2 linked regions of the Homo sapiens genome follow. The protein of the gene in region 1 binds, or shares a complex with, the protein of each later gene. Each region holds a gene or a part of one and is shown on either strand. Other genes may lie near its edges.

Region 1 (2,312 bases):
TGAGGCTGCCTTGTCTCCCTGGAGCAAGTGCAGGCTGCTGACGCTTCTGCTGGCTACAGCTCAGAGCTGGGTTCCCCAGCCAGGAGTGAAGGCTGGGGGCTCCTATCAGCAATGGACCTTCCCGCCTTGGGAGCCTCTTAGGTATTAGGCTATGAATCAGCGCCACGTGCAAAGGCTTGGGAGCCAAGCCATGTGGTCTTGCACCCCAGGCAAGAAAAGTCAGCTGGAGGGTTTACAGCACTTTCTACTGTTTCCCAGCCCTCCCTCCCCTCCCTCACCATGACTAAGAGACCACTCGGTCCTAGCCTCCAGACACCCCACAATACTCCTCTGAGCCTGAGGCCAGGCAGCATGCTCTGCTTCTACCAATAAAGCACTGCTAAGGGCAGGGGCTGCTGTTTCTGTGTTGGGCTAGGGAAGACGTGGCCTCAGTTCCATGCTTTGCTCCAGATGTTTAAGAGAAGTGCTGTTAACACGCAAGCTGGCACAACCATCTAAGCCTCTCCTGGGGGCTGAATTAGGAGAGCCCAAAGAAACACTGTGGAGTAGGGAAAGGCAGAAAAGGGGAAGGGCAGACATGGTAGGGGCCCCGACATTAAGAACACCCTAGCCATACCAGCAACCTGAGCAGACAAACAGCCAACAGAACATCAGTCAAAATAAAAGGGGTTTATGTAACAAAAAACAAAAAAACAAACAAACAAAAAAACACAGTAAAAGATACCACCCAGCTAGCAGAAAGGACTCAGCACTGCCTTCAGCCTTCACTTACTCAGAAATAACTCATATCTCAACCTCAGCAAGCCCCAAGCAGTAGAATGAGGCTTCCCTGGAAAGAGGCTGAGACTCACAGGCTGGGGATTTAAGACCCTCTCACCGTCCACCTTCCTTCCTTCTTTGGTCTTGGAAGATGAAAGGCTCCATTTTTAAAGGGTGGAGAACAGCAGATCCCCTGCTACTGTGAGACAAGCCAGAAAAGTGAGTCAAGGCCAGACTCACTATGGGGTCACCCCAAACAGCTTCAGATCAAAAAGCCTGCCTTGCTGTGATGCCCATTGACAGTGGCTGCAAATATAAAGGGGGGGCCACAGGGTCTCTGGCTTTATTTCCACAGGGTAGGGAGAAGACCCTGCAGAAGGCTAGGCAGAGGGGCCAGCCGGGAATTTCCCAGCTTTTCTGGTTCTCAGCAGACCAACGTGGTCTCTAATCAGAAAGACGAAGAGGCAGGAGAGCACTGGCCTCAGATATCCCCCATCTTGTCCTCTTGCACTGTGGGCCAGGGCTGCTGTGAGCTAGGAGACCAGGGTTCCAGAGGGGCTCACTAGGTCCTGCGGGAGGCTTTCCCGGGCCTCCTGCATGCGGCGCCGGGCTCGACGGAAGGCCTCTGTAAGGAAAGGAGATATGCTATTTGGCTGCCATATGGTATTTCTCTCTGCACTGCAGAGAGAAACAGGCCCATGCTGACCTGGGGTGGCCAGCTGGGGGAGGGGACATACCTAGCACATTGTGAATGGAACTCTGCTGGCTGAACCCTTCCAGACGGTCCAACACACTCCGCATCCTTTTCTGAAGGGAGCTCGATTCCATGAAGGCCCTGCAGGGAGGCCAGCCACATGGTTACGGCTGTCTCCACCCCTCAGGGCTAAGGTGCCCTGAGGCAGAGGGCCAAGTCACTCACCTGGACTGCTGCAGACAGTGCAAGCGGAAGGTGACAGTGCCTGTGGTCTCTGTGCGGAGTCCAAAGCGGCTCAGGCGTTCCCCCTGTGGCATGCCATTGGGACAGCCTCAGGTTTCTGCTCTCTCTAGACACCCCCGCACCATGCTGGCCTCACCCCCATTCTTATTCCCATTCTTGGGAAGCGCAGTTCTGTTGGGGAAACCTTATTCCATCACCCAGACTCTATTACCTCAAGGCTAATACTGGGCTATTGGGCTCCCCCAACTAAACCAGGGAACATTCCAACCTCATTTGAGAAGCGGCGGTCTTATATGCTTACTGTGAATCCTCCCCACATCTGATTACTGAGGCCTTCAGTGATGGGGGAAAGAGCCAGTTATTCTGATGGGAACCAGGGGAAATCTCTAATTATACTATTTTCCAGAGACCTCCTACGATAGCAGTGTAGATATTGGAACCTGATTCAAAATGTGGTCATGACTTCCAGCTTAAGCCACAGGAAGGAAGGGGTTAATACTGAAGCAATGCACAACTAAGGGGTCTTGACCCAGATCCCACCTCCTACAGAAGGACAGGACCATAAGTTCTCAGCGTGAAGTCACTCCAAAGACAAAAGTCACCTTGAAGGATCCTG
Region 2 (3,654 bases), about 39 Mb from region 1:
GGCCAACATGGTGAAACCCCATCTCTACTAAAAATATTAAAAATTAGCCAGGCATAGGCTGGGCGCAGTGGCTCATGCCTGTAATCCCAGTACTTTGGGAGGCCAAGGCGGGCGGATCCCCTGAGGTCGGGAGTTCGAGACCAGCCTGGCCAACATGGAGAAACCCTGTCTCTACTAAAAATACAAAATTAGCCAGGCATGGTGGCACGTACCTGTAATTCCAGCTACTCGGGAGGCTGAGGCAGGACAATCACTTGAACCCGGGAGGTGGAGGTTGCAGTGAGCCAAGATCATGCCATTGCACTCCAGCCTGGGCAACAAGAGCGAAACTCCGTCTCAAAAAAAAAAAAAAAAAAAAAAAATTAGCCAGGCCCGTGGCAGGTGCCTATAATCCCAGCTAATGGGGAGGCTGAGTGAGGCAGGAGAATCACTTGATCCTGGGGGGCAGAGGTTGCAGTCAGCTGAGATTGTGCCACTTCACTCCGGTCTGGGCGAAAGAGTGAAACTCAATCTCAAAAAAAAAAAGAAATTAGTAAAAGAATAGCAAGTTAAACCCAAAGAAAGCAGAATAGAATGAGAAACAGCAGAAATTAATTCATTAAACAGAAAGCACACTTACAACAGAAGAGATGAAAGAGGCAAAAGTTGGTTTTTAAAACTGAAAACCCCAAGTTAAGACGATGAAAAAACAGGCTAAGTGGGGTCACTCACACCTATAATCCCAACACTTTGGGAGGCTGAGGCGGTAGGATCGCTTGAGCCCAGGAGTTCAAGACTAACCTGGGCAACATGGTGAGACCCTGTCTCTACAAAAAATAGAAAAATTGGCCAGGCACAGTGGCTCAAACCTGTAGTCCCAGCTACTCGGGAGGCTGAGGTGGGAGGATTGTTTGAGCCTAGGAGTTTGGGGGTGTAGTGAGCTATGATCATGCTACTGCACTCCAGCCTGGGTGCCAGCGCTAGACCCTATCTCTAAAAAATAATAAGAAGAAACAGAAGACAGAAATGGCAGGAATGAAAAAGGAACATGTTACAGATCTTGCAGACAGTAAAAAGATAAGATATAAAGAACAGCCATTTGCTATACATTTGGCAAGGTAGATGAAATGGTCAGATTCCTAGAAAAAGATAACTACCAAAACTGCAAAAAAGGAATAAGAATCTGAGTAGTCCTATGTCTATTAAATTGAATCTATAATTAAAAATGTTCTCACAAAGAAAGTTCCAAGTCCGAGTGTCTTCATCACTGAGTTCCACCAGGCATTTAAAGAATGACACCTTCCATGGCAGAAGTGTAAGAAAAAAAAGAAGAGGAAGTAACGACAGATTTACACAAACTCCTAGAATTGAAAAGATTAAACATTCCCCAGCTTTTTTAGGTCAGCATAGTTTTGATTCTAAAGCCTGCTGAGGACATTAAAAAGAAGAAACTCCTTCATGAACAGAGTTGCAAAACTCCCAAACAAAATATTCAGAAACTGAATTCAAAACTCCTAAATGAAATATTCAGAAACTAGCAAGATAAAAAAAGGATAATATAATACATCATGAGAAGTAGGGTTTATTCCAAAAATACAAAGGTTTTATGACATCTATAGTTGGCCAGGCACAGTGGCTCATATGGAGGCCGAGGTGGGAAGATTGCTTGAGGCCAGGAGTTTGAGACTAACCTGGGCAACGTAGCAAGACCCTGTCTCTAAATAATTCACCACATTAAAAAGAAGAAAAGTCAGAGTCAGGCCAGGCACCATGGCTCACACCTGTAATCCCAGCACTTTGGGAGGCCGAGGCAGGCAGATCATTTGAGGTCAGGAATTTGAGACCAGCCTGGCCAACATGGTGAAACTCCTTCTCTACTAAAAATACAAAAATTAGCCGGGTTTGGTGGCGCACGCCTGTGATCCCAGCTACTTGGAAAGCTGAGGCAGGAGAATCGCTTGAAACTGGGAGGCAGAGGTTCCAGTGAGCCAAGATTGCACCACTGCACTCCAGCCTGAGTGACAGAGCAAGACTCCATCTCAAAAAAAAAAAGAAAAAAAAAATCATGATCATCCCCATAAATGAAGAAAACACATGGTAAAATTCAACTCCCATTCATGATAAAAGCTTAGTAAACTAGGAATAGAAGGAAGCTTCCCTAACCTGATCAAGATTATCTATGAAAAGCTTAGAGCAAACATCACTTTTACTGGTGAAATGTTGAAAGATTTTTTCTGCAACCTCGGCCTCCTGGATTCAAGCGATTCTGGTGCCTCAGCCTTCCAAGTAGCTGGGATTACAGGCATGCACCACCATGCCCGGCTAATTTTTGTTTTTGTTTTTGTTTTTATTTTTGAGATGGAGTCTTGCTCTGTCTCCCAGGCTGGAGTGCAGTGGCACGATCTCAGCTCACTGCAACCTCTGCCTCCTGGGTTCAAGCAATTCTGCCTCAGCCTCCGGAGTAGCTGGGACTACAGGCACATGCGACCACACCCAGCCAATTTTTGTATTTTTAGTAGAGATGGGGTTTCACCATGTTGGCCAGGCTGTTCTTGAACTCCCATCCTCAGATGATCCACCTGCCTCAGCCTCCCAAAGTGCTGGGATTACAGGTGTGAGCCACCGCGCCTCGCCTAATTTTTGGATTTTTCATAGAGAAGGGGTTTTGCCACGTTACCCAGGCTGGTCTTGAACTCCTGGCCTCAAGTGATCTGCCACCTCAGCCTCCCAAAGTGCTGGGATTACAGGCATGAGCCACTGCTCCCAGCCTGGTCTTTTTTTTTTTTGAGACAGAATTTCGCTCTGTCGCCCAGGCTGGAGTGCAGTGGCGTGATCTCAGCTCACTGCAAGCTCCGCCTCCCGGGTTCACGCCATTCTCCTGCCTCAGCCTCCTGAGTGGCTGGGACTACAGGCGCCCGCCAGCCTGGTCTTTTTAATAAATGGTGCTGGGACAATTTGATATACATAGGAAAAAACTTCAGCCTGTCCTCATACACACAAGTCAATTTCAGATGGATATGTAGCATAGAGGACTATAGCCATGATATCAGGGTAAGGGAAGATTTTCTGGCAGGACTCCATGAAGGAGAAGATCAATGAAGTTGACTATATTAAAATTAAGGGCTTATGTTCATTCAAAGACATCACTAAAAATGAAAAGATAAGTCACAGGATAAACACACATATACACACTATAAATCAATAAGAAAAAGGCCAGGCCAGGCAAGGTGACTCACACCTGTAATCCCTGCACTTCGGGAGGCTGAGGCAGGAAGATTGCTTGAGCCCAAGAGTTTGAGACTAGCCTGGGCAACATAGTGAGACCCCATCTCTACAAAAAATTTAAAAATTAGGCATGGCAGCACACGCCTATAGTCCCAGCTACTTGGGAGGCTGAGGTGGGAGGATCACTTCAGCCCAGGAGGTTGAGGTTGCAGTGAGCCATGATTGCACCACTGCACTCCAGCCTGGGCAACAGAGCAAGACCCTGTCTCAAAAAAAAAAAATGTTTTTAATGAAGAAAAAAGAAAAAGACCATCAAGTAGAAAACCGGGCAAGAGACTTGAGTAGGTTCTTCACAAAAGAGGACATCCAGGTGACCAAGAAACAGGTAAAGGTCTCAACCTTATTTCAGTAAGAAAAATCTAAAATGAAGGAAAATATAAGTTAAAGCTA

Evidence for each region. Proteins that work in one complex are often made in the same cells at the same time.
Region 2: MKS1 (region 1) and B9D1 share a complex: the UniProt entries of both Homo sapiens proteins name them as parts of the tectonic-like complex.

The regions. Positions count from the first base shown.
Region 1 is NC_000017.11:58,204,787-58,207,098, forward strand, and holds the end of MKS1 (tectonic-like complex member MKS1), read right to left. Parts: coding exon 2,299-2,312; intron 1,762-2,298; coding exon 1,679-1,761; intron 1,595-1,678; coding exon 1,497-1,594; intron 1,385-1,496; coding exon 1,293-1,384; coding exon of another isoform or gene 1,204-1,292; 3' UTR 655-1,203; downstream 1-654. UniProt on the Homo sapiens protein: Component of the tectonic-like complex, a complex localized at the transition zone of primary cilia and acting as a barrier that prevents diffusion of transmembrane proteins between the cilia and plasma membranes.
Region 2 is NC_000017.11:19,349,223-19,352,876, reverse strand, and holds part of B9D1 (B9 domain-containing protein 1), read left to right. Parts: intron 1-3,654. UniProt on the Homo sapiens protein: Component of the tectonic-like complex, a complex localized at the transition zone of primary cilia and acting as a barrier that prevents diffusion of transmembrane proteins between the cilia and plasma membranes.